Regions from separate parts of the Homo sapiens genome. Here region 2 is linked to region 1. The links come from fine-mapping of genetic effects on plasma protein levels. Region 1 holds a variant in brackets. A gene starts in the other region. All regions are shown on their reverse strands.

The links. A credible set is the group of variants that fine-mapping cannot tell apart. PIP is the chance, under the fine-mapping model, that this variant and not a neighbour inherited with it causes the effect. The UK Biobank Pharma Proteomics Project read protein levels with antibody pairs (Olink). The fine-mapping took linkage between variants from a reference panel, not from the people measured, so its PIPs are less certain.
Region 2: it holds the start of UMOD, and the variant in region 1 is the best candidate, but not a certain one, in a credible set for the plasma level of the UMOD protein (UK Biobank, PIP 0.73).

The regions. Positions count from the first base shown.
Region 1 is chr9:4,295,395-4,303,727 of GRCh38, reverse strand. GLIS3 (GLIS family zinc finger 3) reads left to right here and starts at 3,660. Exons shown (of 11, transcript NM_001042413.2): 1 at 3,660-4,307. It overlaps GLIS3-AS2 (GLIS3 antisense RNA 2), which reads right to left and starts at 4,427. Exons shown (of 4, transcript NR_186824.1): 1 at 4,305-4,427. RefSeq lists an enhancer at 6,365-6,659. The variant C/G (reference allele first, on the strand shown) is at 4,773.
Region 2 is chr16:20,349,335-20,357,667 of GRCh38, reverse strand. UMOD (uromodulin) reads left to right here and starts at 4,953. Exons shown (of 11, transcript NM_003361.4): 1 at 4,953-4,979; 2 at 6,829-7,018. The coding sequence starts at 6,931.

The DNA of each region.
Region 1 (8,333 bases):
AAACATTTCACCAATTAGACAAGATTGAGAGATATTGTATGGAGTGAAATATTTGAAATTTTGGTCAGTTGCATTTGGTCTGACACATTTTAGACTCTGATTTACAGTTTTGACTTTAGAAAGGAAAAGAGGTATGATGTTGTGAATGCGATATGTGTAAATAAGAATTTTTTAAAAAATTACATCACTGACATGTATGTGAGCCGAAGAGTTTGGGCTGAACATACTTGTGACAAATTAGTAGAAAAATCAGCTTAAGTTTTCTTAGTATATCACACACTGATAACATAATGTGAAATTTGCTGCATTCCACTATTTGTACTACTCAGGAAAGTAAAATGGAAATTTTCCATTTTACACATTTAGTTCCCCCCTTAAAGTTGGCAAACACTAACTTTTTCCACTGCATTTCTACGTAACTGGACTGTTGCCAGCTCGTGTGTGTGTGTGTGTGTGTGTCTGTGTTTTAATAGCTAGGCATACTATCACTGGTGCTATTAGCTCAACTTATCTGTATTTTGGGGTTCAAATTTGTTTCTTTTCACGGACACTTTGTGGGAGGAGGAATCTGATCATAGTTCTTTGCAAGTTTGTAAGTGGTTTACTGTCAGAGCACTCAGGGTGACTCAAATAGCAGTTCTGAAGTTTTGCTGTCAGGATGTTCCTTCGGGAGAGTTTCATTGCTGTGAGACAGTGGATGTTCCTATTTTGTACTCTAGCTTTGAGTGAGCTGCTTGCTATGCAGGACTTATGCCTTCTGTGCCCCTTTTGATGCTGATTCCTATACTTGAAATGGTCTCCTTTGCTTATCACTTCTCTACTCATTCTTTGAAGTCCAGCTCAAACAGCCAAGCTACTCCATGTCACATTGCAGGAAATTATTCCTGCCTCCTCCACACTCCCTACAAACTTCATTGTGCTCATCTAACACTGACCACAAGATGCTTTGCACTTTATACACCTGCAATATGTTTTATACACATTCAAAGAGCATGCACAATTATTCTGTAGTACAGTAATGTTGATTGAACTTGGGGCTTCTAAACTGGCATACTTGGCTCTGTCTCTGACTCTCTTTAACTGTTTACTGAGCTTCAACTTCTTTGCTTCTAAGTAGGAGATTATTCATAGCCACATCATACATTTGATTTGAGAATTAGATGAGGTAATATATGCAAAGAGTCCCCATTTCTTGAGGGTTTGCTACAACTAAGACACTGGGCAAAAAGTTTTCTGTAATATCCTCCCATATACAATGCCTACAAGTGTTAATTCCTTTAGTCCCAATACTTGGACAGAGTGTGTACTCACTGAATATTTCTCTGATGAATGAGAACTGGACTGGAGCTGGCAGCAGGGGCCTGTCTGCTGAGTCAGCTGCCCTGAGTCAGCGGTTGAGGCACATACAACACTGGTCTCTAGAGAGGGAAGATACTGACTGGGCTGCAGTTCCCACCTATCTGGCTGAAGGGCTGCCAGAGTATGATTCCTAAGCACGATGGAGAGCTCATGGGTAAGGGAGAGTATCATTTTGGAACTACATGATTTCCTTTCTCACTGTCTCTCATTACCACCCTCCCTCACCCCTGCTGACCAATTCAGCCCAGAAGAGGTACAGATCTCATTCTGAGTCATTCCAGGGTTGTACTGGTACAAGAACAACTGCATTTTTACTATAACCCATGGAATATAAGAACATTGCAGATCTACATTCTTGGCCAGAAAAAAAAAAAAAGAAAAAAATTCAACCAAAGCACTATACCTCTTCAGTGGTAAATATTTTAGGAATGTTAGAGGTTCATGAAAATCACACCTAAATAAAATGACATTCCCACTCTTGGGCTCTTATAAATGAAGAGATTTTGGGGATCTCCAGGTTGATGACTCCTAACTTTCCCAGTGTTTTTTTCCATGAGCTATTGATTAAAGTTGGGTGTAGCACTATATTTTTTTCTCTTCCAGCTAAGCTGTTCCCATCATTTGGGAAGTTTTAGAAGCTTCTGCAAGCCCCTAGGATACCATTCTATGCATCAAAACCATTGTATTTAAAATGATATTTGAGGGACATTGGAAAGGTTTTTTGCAGTCTCCACCCAGGCTTGTCTTGCTCCTGGGAAGCAGTTGTACAGCACAAGAATCTGATGAACAGAAGTTCCCATGATGCATTGAAGGGTTAGTGTTGCCATCTTGCTCTGTTCCTTAAGGCTGGAGTTAATGAGGAAGAGTTTTTATGTGAATGTCAGGCATGTTGCAATAACTAGCCACAATGGAATAGTCATGGCAATTTCCACCACTTGGTTTCTTTGTTTTTGTGATGTTGCTGCATGCTTCATTTTATGAGTATTTTCTTTTCTTACGTGTGGTTGAGCCCATCTATTGCCATCTTGGGCTTGAATACTTGTATTTAAAAGAGATGAACAGAGAGAAACTGGAAAACTGACAGAATGACATATCCTGACCTCTTACTATTTTTCATCCCCTACTTCTGCTGACAAATATTCTGATGAGTTTGTGTCCCAAGGTGAAGGAAAAGAAAAGAAAAAGTACTGTGGAAACCAGGCTTCTTTTGGTTATGTTAATATCATGGATACAGACCAAGCCTAGTAGTATTCCCACTGAAATTAGATAAATGAAAACTGCCAATAGTCTTTTAGTTTTGGCTTTCTGGGGTAAGTCATTTGTGTCCTTGAGGACTTCTGTCTTGATCAAAGCATCTACTACCTGATTGCTAATTTATATTGGAGTGGTAACAGTAGAATAGAATATAAGGACTTGTGAAATTCTAAGTGTCTGGTGGCATCCTCACTCATTTCATTCATGATGGTGAATAATACTGTCAACTGCAGAAAGGCCTACCTGGAGGATATTGTGTGCATTACATACCTAGATTCCCAAGATGGAAGTCCTTGCATCTGTGGCAATACATGTGATGAACTACTAGGAGCAGACTTTCTTGTAACAACCTTTTGAGGGCTCTGGTCAACACAAGCAGAAGCGGTGGCGAGTCAGAGCTTAGGTGGGGTATGAGGCTGAGGATGTTGAATTCATAAGGATAAAGTGCCACTTTATAGACGTAACATACGCAGGGAATATACCTCCATTCTTAACAGCCTGTGTTCAGAATTTTATACCCTTCTAACACTTCCATCACCTTCCTCTCTTCCCTGCCTATACTTGGAAAGGATGCCAAAGCCTTCCTTAGTGCTTCACCTATCCAGTTTCGAAGCTGTCATGTGCATCCGATCCGATATTTCAAAGCAACCCTTTTGCCATTTTTCACTGTGTTATTCTCTCCGTATTACTACCGGATTTTTTTGGTTGTTTGTTTATTTTTTTATGACCTGACATCAAATCCTGTCTAAACACTAACACTTTTTCATGTTAAAATAAGTCAGTTTAACAAATAAGGCCAGGAAGAAGGCGAAGTGTCTCCCTGCTGTTACCCTGTTCTGGAGTTCCTCGACTTCTGGCGCACGGGGAGTGTGTGTGTGTGTGTGTGTGTGTGTGTGTGTGTGTGTGAATGCGTCAAGAGGGAGACACAAGCTCGGCCTTCGAATTGGCCAGCCTAGTGACCCGCGAGCCCGCCCCCACTCTTCCCCCTCCCCCTCCGGCGCTCACACTCAGGAAGCAGCTGGCTACAGGCCGGCCCTCGCGGCCGCACACACATCCACACTCCTCGCCCGGCTGCCTTCCTCCCTCCCTCTTCCCCCTTCCCCTCTCCCTGCAGCCGCGTCCACACTGCGCCGCCCGGGCAGCCCAGAGCGCGGCGCGCACGGGCACCGGCGGCGAGTGCCGCGGCCACTGCCCCTCCCGGGACCCCCTGTACGCCGTCCGCGCCGTCCAGGGTCACACCGGCGACGGAACCCGCCGGCAGCAATTAGCCAGCATCCCGGGGTCGGCCCCCAGAAGCATTCCCCGGCCCAGGACGAGGATGAACAGGACAGGCGAGGCACAAAGTCGCAACTGAACTTTTTAGAAACATTATTTGTGTGTGTATGTGTGTAGCAGGGGAGAATGAGCTGATGCCGAGGGTCCAGCCACCCCGCCTCTGCCTCCTCCTCCCCCTGCCGCCGCTGCCCTCGCAGACGCGCGCGCACACACGGCACTTGGGCCGGGTTTCCGCGCTCCGTCCCCCCGTTTGGATGGGGGTTTTCATTTCCGAAGGAGGCACAGCCCGCGGAGCGCTCTGAAGGGCTGGAGCCCCAAGTTACTCCTCGCCAGCGCCGGCCGCCCGCTGTCACTCGCGCTGGCCGGCCGGGGGAAGGGACCCGCACGCCGGGCTTTGTTGTGGAAATCCCGGTTACCTGGTAAGTGGATGCCATAGGAACTTTGCTCGCAGGCGAGAGACGAGGAGAAACCGGGCGCTTGAGAGTGTGGGGGAGTTAAAGCTCAGAGACGCAAACTAGGGATTACAAATAGTTTTCTACGCTGAGCCGGTGGCGTTCGCGCGGGTTTAAGGATACGCGCACCTCAACTCCCGGCGTCACAGGTCACTGAGAGACCTGCGCTGACTGAGACTGATAGCAACAATTAGGGTTCAAACCATGTTTCTGTCAGTGGCCTAAGAGCGCCCAGTGTAGAAGACAGATAACGGGGCTTTAAAGTTGCGCTAATTCGGAACAGTTTTTGTGTTTTCATTTCAAGTAGAGCGGGCAGAGGGGTACACAATCAGGGCACGTTACAGGACGCACGGGCATGGGGCGCACCACTCTGGAGTCCCCACTGAAGGGAAACTTTGGCGAAGTGGGAACTGATGGGGTGACGTGAGGTCT[C/G]TCGCGCACACGCGGGGCTGTAGTTGTCTTTTCAAGTTCCACGTGTTTGTGGAGTTTCACGAAGGCTGTTTTCCACGCCTGTGTCTCATCCAAGCCGGTGTCCCCATGATTGCGGGAGGTGGTCGGGCTGAGGGTACCTACACTCCTCGCGGGTACCGGCCCGGCGATCCGCAGCCGCCAGGTCTGGAACTATAACCTCCCACGCCGCCAGGACGCAGACACAGCCAGACACGAACCCTCCCCGCCGGGTTCGTCACCTCGCGTTTACATTTTTTATGGGGCCCGACAAAATGTCAGCACTGTTTGGAAAATGTCTCAGTCTCGGAGACGTTGTCCTGCGCGCGGCTCCAGTCCCTATAAATGACCCTGTGTGTATTTTGAAGTCGGCCCGGGTCGCTCTCTGGAAAGCGTGAGTGAGCCGCCGGCTCTCTCCTAGACACACACCTTGCCCCGAGCGACAGTTCCAAGTTACTCACTGGAGCTGACAAGTCACCTCGGGGACCGGGAAGTCACTCAAGTGTCTGGAAATCTTGGCCCTGGCTGATTTGTCATCCTATGGATGATTCAATTAGGTACCTGGCGGGAGAAACTTTGGGGAAGGGTTTCTGGCTCCGCGTTCGCGCCCTCCGACTTGCTGGAGGTGTTTGGGAGGCGAGAAGCGAAAGGAAACCACAGGGTGAGGACACTGGCTCGGCGGGGACCGGGGGGCCGGCGTGGGGGGACTGCGAGCCCGGCCGTGGCGCCCCCGGGCTACAGGCTCCGGCCAGGCCGGGCAGCGCGCGCAGGTCCCCGGCGCCCGGGCTTCCCAGCCGCAGCACCCTTTCGGCCCCCGACTCACTCAGGAGCGAGTTGCACAACAGGAAGCCGGCACTAGTTTGTTTTGTTGCGCTGCGTTCGCTCCCTCGCTCGCTCGCGCACGGGGCCGAGGGTTAGGGGCGGAGGCGGCGGGGGAGTGACGGGGTCGCAGCCGCGCGTACCCCGCCGGGCGCTGTCGCCTCCGCCTCCGGACCCGCCCCTAGCTCCGCGCCGAGGAATCTCCGACCCCGGCAGCGAAGCCAGTCCTATAGGGAACCGATAAGGGCCGCCCTCCTCCTGCCTTGTCCTACGCGCCTCTCCCCCGCTCCCGGCACCTCTCCCGACTTCTCCAGCCCTCCTCTTGGCAGGAGTGGTCTCGAGGACTGAGACCACTGCTCTGTGTGCCTCCTTGAGCCCCACGCTAGTTTGCCCCGGTATCCGCTTGGCCCTCATCTCTGGAGCATGTAAACCTGGGGAAGGGGTAGGGAGGTGCTTCCGGAATCACAGGGAGTAGGGTCCGTAGAGACAGGACTCGTGGAGTCGCGGCCCCGTTTCACAAAGAGGGTTGCTCTTGCACCCTCTCCCCGAGCCGGCAGAACCAACTTCCTCCAAGACTTCAGCATCTCCCGAGAGTTGGGGCCCCAGGGCCCTGGAGTTTGTGAGAAGAGGGAAGTTCTGCAGCTCCCCCCAGTGGACCAGGTCCCTTTAGTATGGGGCCGGGAATCTCGAGGAGAGACTATTAAAGCTAGAGTGGACCCTGGCTTCACCTGATGAGGAAACCGAGCCCCAGAGACGTTAGAGGTTTTGCCCAAGGCCTCACAGCCAGTTGTCGCAGACCCTTAAAGTTCTCAGGTCCCGGTTAAGAGAGCATTTCTTGGCTCGAAGATGACCTCAAGACAAATGCAAAGTCTGGTTCTGTCCCCTCTGAAAGCTTTGATGAGTCATGATTTCTGCCTTGGGAGTAAGCCAGACTTCTGTTTCACCCTCTGTCTTGTTCCTCACTGGACCTCCCTTTTTAGACTAAACTTTTTTTTTTTTTTGGGTACAAAATCGACTTGTGTTGGTTTAAACCTTCCTACTTCTTCTCTTTTATCTCCTCCTAGTTTGTTTCCGCTGGTTCTGTGTGAAGCAGGTGCAACCTGTAAAGGTTTGCAGAAAAAGAATCCGCCACGATGAAGGTCGTTCTGAGAAAGTTTGAAGCAATTTAGACAGGAGAGTGTTAGATTATATGCATTTTTTTTTTTTTTTTTTTTTTTTGCAATTGAGAACAAGCTGAGGTGTAAGGATCATCTATAACCGTACTGCAGTTTTCATTTATTTTCACTGGTCATCTGCGCAGCCAGACTAGCTCTGAGGCTACCTTTGAAAGGAAGTGTAGGGGACATTTTTTTTTCGCTATTTTCAAAACACCTGTCCTTATTGGTAGTTTGTAATTGCTTTCTTTTCTTGCCCAGAAGACTCAGTAATCCTTGAGTATGAGTAGATCAATTTAAGTGCTGCTGTTAACTTCTCCCCTTGGTTCACCTTAGGCCAGTTTGGGGACAGCATCGTTGATCCCCTGATTCCACTGAAGTTCCTTAGTAGGCAGGTTATCAGAGGTTGAATACCTAGGGTTTGTTGGTTTGCTTGGAAGAAGTGATCATCACTTCAAATAAGAAAGGCAATCTTTATTGGGGTGGTGGATGAACTCCAAGGTCCACCTAGTGGGTGAATTTCCTACTGAGCTAAAATAGCCTGGGTAGGAGAGGTTAAATAATACCCAGAAAACGTTTTGTATTAGCCCTGCCTTCATTTATGCAGGAGAAAGTGGTCCTTCTGCCATTCCAGAAGAGAGCTCAGTGTTCTCGGTCTTTTTTTTTTTTTTTTTTCCTCTGACTGTTCTTTCCTGCTAGTAAATTAAGCCTGAGGACATTCATTCTTTCCACTGTTGTCTCTCTCATATTATAATTATTGATCTTTGGAGTTGGAGTGTTAATTTACTCTTCTCCCAGATTATAGAATACATACTTCTTGAAGGAGATAACTCAGAGTGGCGTCACATGCACATTTCTCATCTCTGGAGAAGTCATTTTCTGTGTTTCTGTGATTATTTTCTGTAGAGGGCATTATATTGTAAATAAGGTGGAAATACAGGACTTAACTGTTTTACTTTTCCCTAAGTTTGGTTGGTTCATAGACTATCAGGACTGGGGAAAAAAGGCACATAGGAAATCTGTGTGATAAAAAAAAAACTTGTTGCCATTCTCATTCAAGGAAGATGACACATAACAAAACCTTTGAAATGACATTGATACATAGTTTGATTAAAAGATGTCCAAGTCCCCAGTTTTTGTAGTTTCCCACTTACTTTAGGCAGAGTTGACACAAAAGCCAAATTTTCTATTGAGATGAAATATCCTTACGGAAAAGCACACTTATCTTGAGCTCGATGCATTTTTTTGCAAGTGGAACACACCCACATAACTAGTCTCCAGATCAAGAAACAGAGCATTATCAACACACCAGAAACATCTCTCACACTCCATTCTAGTTACCACCTCTGCCTAAGGTAACCGTTGCCCTGGTTTCTAACAGATATATTAGTTTTGTCTGGTTTTTTTAAAAAAAATCTTGTGTAAATGGAATAATTCAATATGCACTCTTGGGTCTGGCTTCTTTCGCTCAACACAACAACCTTTTATTAGGTCAAATAATTTGGACTCCCCCTTTAAAGATGATGGAAACAGTCTGGCTTGCAGAAATTAGTGAGGCATTACTTAATATGAT
Region 2 (8,333 bases), not on the chromosome of region 1:
TCTTTATTGCTTTTAGAATAAAATCTAGTCTGCCTACCATGCCTTCAACACCTTGAAAGGTCTGGCCCCACAGATCTCCTCCTCTCCCTCTCCCCCTCACATTCTAGGCCCCAGCCACACTTCCTGTCTACTCTATGAACAAGCCAAATTCACTCTCTCCTCATGTTCCCTCTGCCTAAATGCACTCCCTTCAAAATACATTTCCCCCAGTTCCTCACATAGCCATGTTCTTTTCTTGGTTCAAATCTCAGCTCACCTGTCACCACCTCCAAAAGGCATTCCTGGAGACTAAAAATTGAAAGCATCTTATTTTGTTGTGCAATGATATATTGCCTGATTCTCCAATTAATATGTAAGCTCCACGAAAGTAGATATATCTATTGTTTTTTTTCTTGCCGTATTCCCTTTGCCTAGAACTCTGCTTGACACATAGTAGATGCTCAATAAATGCTCGTGGATCAATCAAATATTCCATTTTAGGTGAGAAATACATAATTTCATAGTCATCCCAAAAGGCAGAGGTGCTGACAGTGTTGTCCCCAGATCCAAACTGGAATCTGTATTCGTTCCCTATTTTTGATCTGACAAATTAACACTTAAGTGGCTTAAAACAACACAAACTTACTCTCTTAGAGTTCTGGAGGCTAGAAATTAGAAATCAATTCCACTGGACTAAATTCACGAGTTAGTCCCTTTTGGATGAATTCCCTGCTATGCCTTTTCTAGCTTCTGGGAGGCCCCTGCATTCCTTGGTTTATGGTTCTGTCCTAGAATCACTCTGACTTTTCATTTCATCCTTACACCTACTTCCTCTGACTCCTCCTGCATCACTTTTATAGGCACCACTGTGATTGCATCCAGCCTGCCCAGACAACCTCTCCATCTCAGGATCTGTAATCACACTGCACAGTCCCTTTTGCCATAAAAGGCAACACACACAGGTTTGGGGATTCAGAGGTGAACGTATTTGGGGGTCATTATTCAGCCTACCACAGATTTAACTCATGGATTTGTGTCATTCATTTCAGCCAGGCCTTCTCTTGAGAAAAGAAGGGCAGCATTCTTTTAGAAATTGAGGTCTCTAGAAACCACCTGGGTCTCTCCACTCCTCACCTGTCATGTAAGGCAAAGGCTATTTGTGCTTTCTCATACCTCCAGAGACAGCTCCCATGCCCCTCACCCTGAACCTGGCCTGTCCACAACCAGAGGAAGCAGGGAACAGCCTGCGGCTCTGGAACTCACCTGAGCCGAATTCCCCAACAGGAGCAGGTGTTAGTATTCAGGACACGGTGTAAGGCTCACCTGCCTCGGCCTTGAGGTCATGTGGCTGCCAGTTGAAGGAGGGTTACGGGGGGCTGCCTAGACTAGATCATGTGGCATAGAGCCCCTGACAGGCCACGAGCCAGAGAATGGGTGTGCCACCTCCAGGTCCCCCAGGCGTAACTGGAGCCTCAGGAGGTGTGTGCTCAGAGAGGTAGGTGGGACAGGTAATACCCCTCTTTTGGGGGATCTTCTCCCTTGGCTCATTTTTTGCCGCTTTCTGACACACACCAACCTCTCATTCTAAGTTTTTGTGTTCTGTTTGATCAATTTTTCAAAACTCTCCACCCTTTAGTTTCACTCTTTCCAAAACTACCTAAAACCACTTATCCTTCTAAGACCCTGTCATGGCTGAGCATGGAATGTTCTGTAACCCAAGGAATGCAGGTAAATCTGAGTGAGATTTGAGTTTTAGTCTGGATTTAACACTCGCTAGCTGTGTAATCTTGGGGGAGTTACTCCACCTCTCTGAACTTGTCTTCTTCCCTGTGACGTGGGTTGTTGTGTTTCATTGTTTGAGACAATGGAGGCAAAAGCACTGAGCACAGTGTCTGACCCAAGAGAAGTGCTCAGTGGGTGATTGTTCTCAGCATTATTAAGATCAAGTCTCCTACCCATGTTTGAAAGTTAAGAGAGAAAAGTGTTTCAGGCTGGTTGTGGTGGCTCATGTCTGTAATCCCAGCACTTTGGGAGGCCGAGGCAGGCAGATTACCTGAGGTCAGGAGTTCGAGACCAGCCTGGCCAATGTGTACAAAAAAAACACAAATTAGCCGGGCATGGTGGTATGCACCTGTAATCCCAGCTACTCGGGAGGCTGAGGATTCAAGGATTCAAGAGAATCACTTGAACTTGGGAGGTGGAGGTTGCAGTGAGCCAAGACTGAGCCACTGCACTCCAACCTGGGTGACAGAGCAAGACTCCATTAAAAAAAAAAAAAAGAAGAAGAAAAAGAAAGAAAGAAAGAAGAGTGTTTCAAGAGCGAAGTGCTGAGAGATTAAGGTTCGTTCAAAAACAAATATTTATTGTGCACTGTCCTAGAGGTAAGATAAAGAGAAAAATATTGATTGAATTTGGTAACATGGATGTCTTTGGTGAACTTGATGAGCAACAGAGCAGGAAATTATGGCCACTGACAACTTGTTATACTCACAGATCCCAAGAGAAGGGGACACACCACACTGGGCAGAGGGGCTGAAGGGAGAGGAAGAGCTGCTGGGAAGTACCAGGGTCGGTCAGGAAGCAAAGAGAGCAAGGGAAAAGGCAGGAAAGAGCCTTTATTGTAGTTTCTGCAGGAAGGAATGGGAGAGGCAAGGTAAGCAGATTTAGGATTGGCTTAGTTTGAATAATTTCAGAGACCTCTGGGCCATAGGAGTTGTCTCTAGTTGTCTGGTACCTGGTCCCTTGGGGTGATCTAAAGCAGCAAGTAGTGACCCTAAGTGTAAAAGCCCCAAAAAGGAGGCCAAGGGTTGGGGGTATGTGGTCTGGATTGATTGATTTGCAGTCGGAAAGGCACATTCACAGATAAGTCGTTTTTGATCTCTAGTAATTATTGAGCCCTGGGAGGGGCAGTCCCTCCATGATCAGTAAGGCCCCAAAATGTACAAGCACCAAATACAGAAACTAGAAAGCATGGTGATTACACTTATGAATAGATTCCAACCCAAACTCCCCATTTTCCTGCCCAAGTCTTTGTCAAGAAAACTCCAGAAGCCACCTGGGGTCACTGTCTTTAATCCTTTGAAGACACCCATAATAAGGTTTAGACAAGGCCTCATGAAAAAGGTATAGGATAAAAACGACTAGTTCAGAAAAAAAAAAGTAAATAAATGAAGAGATAACTTCCCTTTTCATCAAAGAATTGCAAAAATGAACAATAATGAGATCGTTTCCACTTATCCTTTTGGCAAAGATGAAAGCAAGTTACCAATGCTCAGAACTGGTGAGTAGTGTTGGTGGGATTGTAAACCAATTTATAATAATTCTCTGGGGTGCTGTTTGGGAAGAGGAGTCAATATTCCTACAGCTGTGCTACCTCTTTGACCCAGAATTTCCACTCCTTGGACATAATCCTGAGGAGATGACAACACCAGTGCCAGTGGTTACCCTACCACTGAGTGGGACAGGATGGAGAAATGTCCTGAAAAGAGCAATTCACAATAGCAAAGACTTGGAACCAACTCAAATGTCCATCAATGATAGACTGGATTAAGAAAATGTGGCACATATACACCGTGGAATACTATGCAGCCATAAAAAATATGAGTTCATGTCCTTTGTAGGGACATGGATGAAGATGGAAACCATCATTCTCAGCAAACTATCGCAAGGACAAAAAACCAAACACCGCATGTTCTCACTCACAGGTGGGAATTGAACAATGAGAGCACTTGGACACAGGAAGGGGAACATCACACCCAGGGGCCTATTGTGGGATGCGGGGAGCGGGGAGGGATAGCATTAGGAGTTATACCTAATGTAAATGACAAGTTAATGGGTGCAGCACATCAACATGGCACATGTATACATATGTAACAAACCTGCACGTTGTGCACTTGTACCCTAAAACTTAAAGTATAAAAAAAAAAAAGATCAATGCAGTGATCATGGTGATATTTTCCTGCTCAGCCCAAGTTCACACATATTTTATTTTTCTCAACATGATGACAGCCACTCTCACACTGACTTTTGGAATGTCATGTATGTTGAACTGGGTCTGAAGACATGGTTTTAACTCAGGCTCTGTCATTTTCTACCTCAGTGATTGCACAACAGCAAAGCAGAATTTTCACTACTTCCATGAATATAATCATTACTATATGACTTTACTTGCATCATCTCCTTTGGTTACTATTACTACTGTGGGAGATGGGTATTCTCATTTTATAGACAAGGAAATTGACCTCTGGACCTCAGGAAGGTTAAGAAATGAGCCCACTGCCACACAATAAACACCAGATAAAGGAGGCAGACTGACTCCAAAGTCAGTCTATTTAAGTGCAAATTTATTTCGCCTCCAAAGGGACCTCCCAGTCATCAGACCTGATTCTTTGTTGTACAGAGTGGGTCAGGTCCAGTGATGTCTGAACTACCTTCTGGTTCTGACTTTCAGCCATTCTCAGCTCCTCTCTTGCTTGTGTCTGGATTCTAAGGCTGATCTCATGAGAATGGGTGTTTCAGAAGGGTGCCCTCTCCAAGACAGGTGCACCTCCCATCTGGGGCAGTGAATATCCCTTTTGTCCTTATGCAGCCTGGCTTCAGATACTGGCTTCTGCCTGGCTCCTTGATCCCACCCTGCCCTTGTCAGTGACCAAGAAGAAGCCCAGCACCTTGGCACTGCTTTCCCAGTTAATTTCTAACTATGGAATCTCTTGCTGTTAGAAGGTGCGAAACAGTGACCTTGTATTTCCGGGCACAGGTGTGACCCCCCAATGTCAATCATTTGGGGTCTCTAGCTATTAGGAAAAAGAACAACAACAACCTCACAGCTTGGACAAGGCAAACATTATGCCAGGAGGAAAAAATATTCCACCCCCAAGAAAACAATATCAAAAAACAGAACTAGAGACTAATTGGAGGAGAGATTGCCAGCCTGGGGCAAATGTGTATATATAAGTATGAGGCACATCATGACCAGACTAACTCTACCTTTCTGGCTTCAGGTAAGGCTATCTGTAGCTGTCTTCTCCTAGCCCAGCTTCTCCCCATCCTATTTGAGGGAGGTAGGAGAGGAAATTAAGACCTTGGACACTGGGGTCAGACCTGGATTTGAGTCATTATTCTGCCAATTATTGGCTTCATGATCTTTAGTAAGTTAGTTTTCCTCTCTTTGATCCTCTCTGTCCTAGTAACAATGACTACTATTTTTTGACTTATTCCATGAATATTAGTTATGCACCTATTATGTGCCAGGTACCAGGGTTACAACAATGAACAACTTGCTATGTGCTGGGCCCTGCTCGACATATGTCATCTTAGTTAATCCCAGTGACAATATGCAGTGTTTTAGGTCGCATCTTATTAGCGGGTCATAAAATCATTCCTTTTGTGGGTTATATCCAGGGACTTCTTTTAATTAAATATAATAGAATATGTCAGTAAGCAATACAAATTTGAGGCAAGCAGTTAGCCTCTTTGTCCCCCTGTTTTCTCATCTGCAAACTAGGATAATACTTATCTCATAGGGTTGTGGTAAGAATTAAATCACTTAATGTAGTAAGGATATCAATTGTCTTATAAAATTTTATGTGTGTGTGCACATACATGCAGAAGCGACTGCACTAGATCATGACATAAAATGTTTTTCTTTCTTTCTGTCTTTTTTTTTTTGGGGGGGGGGGATGGACTCTCTGTCACCCAGGCAGGAGTGCAGTGGCACGATCTCAGCTCACTGCAACCTCTGCCTCCCAGGTTCAAGCAATCCTCCTGTCTCAGCCTCCCGAGTAGCTGGGATTACAGGCGCCCACCACCATGCCCGGCTAATTTTTGTATTTTTATTAGAGATGGGGTTTCACCATGCTGGCCAGGCTGGTCTCAAACTCCTGACCTTGTGATCCACCCCCTCAGTCTCCCAAAGTGTTGGGATTACAGGCATGAGCCACTGCACCTGGCAACATAAAATGTTTTTCTTTTAGTACATCATGGTCACGAAGATCTGGAAAACGTTGCTCTAGGACCCAATGCCTTTGAGCACATGAATGTCTTTGAACTGAGCCTGGCCCATCATAGATATTCAGTTTGTGAAAGCAACAATCTCCATTTCACAGACAAAAACGGAGACTTAGTAAACTGAAATACCCACATCACAGTGTTAGTGATCAGTAAAGCAGGGATTTGAACCTCAGGTGCAGGCTGCAGCTCCTACATACTTAACCAACATGCCACCCTATTTTGCTGCTATAAACACTGGGGTAATACTGGCATCCACCCTGGACTATTTTTCCAATTGGAAGAAATAGTAAGTGACCACTCCAGAAACATTTAAATGCATTGTGAAGGTTAATTACCTCTCAAGTTGCTCGTCTCAAGCCACTTCTTTACGATATGTGAGTTGCATGAAGGAGCAGACTGCCATGTTCATTGTTCTCCATGGTGACTAGCTCCCTGTTTGGCACAATGTAGCTACTCAATAGATGTTTGTTGAATGAATAAGTGATCCAGGCAAATTGAAAGTTTCCAGGCAGAGGATCAGTTAAAATCCAAAGCTGCCTTCAGTAAAGTGGTGAGTCCAGAACACTATTCCATCTGGCTACTTCCTGCTCCAAATGACTGAGTTCTTCAAAATGTGCAATGTGCTGAGAATTGGGGAGCCAAGACTGGGATGTTGGTGAGGTAAGGAGGGGGAGTACAAGGGGTAAAGTCCCAGCAAAACAAGGGCTGCAGTGTTATGCAATTTTTTAGTCCATATAAGTGACACCTCCTGGAGTTGTATACTATACAATCAAAGCACTCCTTCCAGCTGTGGGGAGGAGAGTTAGATCATGCATTTGTCCCATCCATCTCTGTTCACAGGACACCAGACATCAGAGACAGAGAGAAAAATTCAAAGGGCCAACCCGTCTTTCCTTTGGGCAGGTGCTATCTAGACCTGAAGTAGCGGGAAGAGCAGAAAGGATGGGGCAGCCATCTCTGACTTGGATGCTGATGGTGGTGGTGGCCTCTTGGTTCATCACAACTGCAGCCACTGACACCTCAGAAGCAAGTAAGTGAAAAGTGTGTGTGCGTTGTATATGTGTGTATGCACGTGTATGTGTGAATGTGTGGGGGAAGCAATGTAGCACCTGTCAGAGGTGATCTCAATCCTCCTATCGCACTTGAGACTTGCATTGTCTTCATTCTAAGTCCATTTCTTAGACTCAATATGCACAGGACTGACTTAGAAATTTTGCTAAAGTGCATATTCTGGTTCAGCAGATCTGCAGTAGGACCTGAGATGCTGAATTTTTAACAAGCTTCCAGGCGATGCTCATACTGGGGTCCCTGGAGTACACATTGAAAAGCAAGGGGCTAGAACATCTCTAAGGCCTGCAGGCCCTTTATTGGAAGTCAGAAACATACTCTATCACATAGGAGATTTGAACCCATGCAGGAGGATCCAAACACCTTCCCTTTCAACTTTAAGAGGTCATTCCATTGGGTTGAGATTTGCTGTCACCCCACTTTCATTTTCTCCCTGGAGTACGTTGGGGCACGATGAATACTATTGCGGTGTCCTGGTTAAAAGCACATATTTTGTGGTCCTGCCATCTGCGTTTTTATCCTGGTTCTACTTCTTACCAAAGGAGTAAGGGGCTTAATCCCTCTGAACCTCAGTCTCCTCATCTTTAAAATAAGGATACATAAAAAACTGACCTCACGAGGCCCTTGGGAAGTATTCAACAAGATAGTGAGTGAAAAGTGCACATCCTATTGCCTGGCATATAGTAATTGCTTAATAAACAACAGCTTCTTTTTTTTTTTAATGGTTATTTTTATTACGGAGGAACAAAGTACAACTGCCCAGCCAGGTGGAGTTGGAGGACTCCGCAGAGAGGAGGCGACACTGAGCAGGGTCCTGATGAAGATTTCACCAGCCAGGGAAGCAGAAAACATAAAATGTGCAAAGAAAGGGAGGGGCAACAGGTTCACCGTAAATCCTACCAAAGTATAGGAATTCTGCGCATTACTTTTCTGAATGTGGCTATTTTAAAAGAAGACAGCTTGAAAGCAATGCTTAACACAAAAAATGAATGGTGGAGCTGGGCGCGATTGCACGTGCCTGTGGTCCCAACTTTTTGGGAAGCTGAGGCAGGGTGCGGTGGTGGCTTGAACTCAGGGAGTAGAACGCTTGAACCCAGGAATTGGAGGCTATGGTGAGCTATGATCGCACTACTGCACTCCAGCCTGGGCGACAGAGCAAGACCCCTCTCCAAAAAAATAAATAAAGTTAAAAAATACAATGAAATAAACACAGAATGAACGGTGGAGGCTTGACATCATCAGAGGAGTTTTGTTTCTTTGCTTCTTTCCTTGTTTTG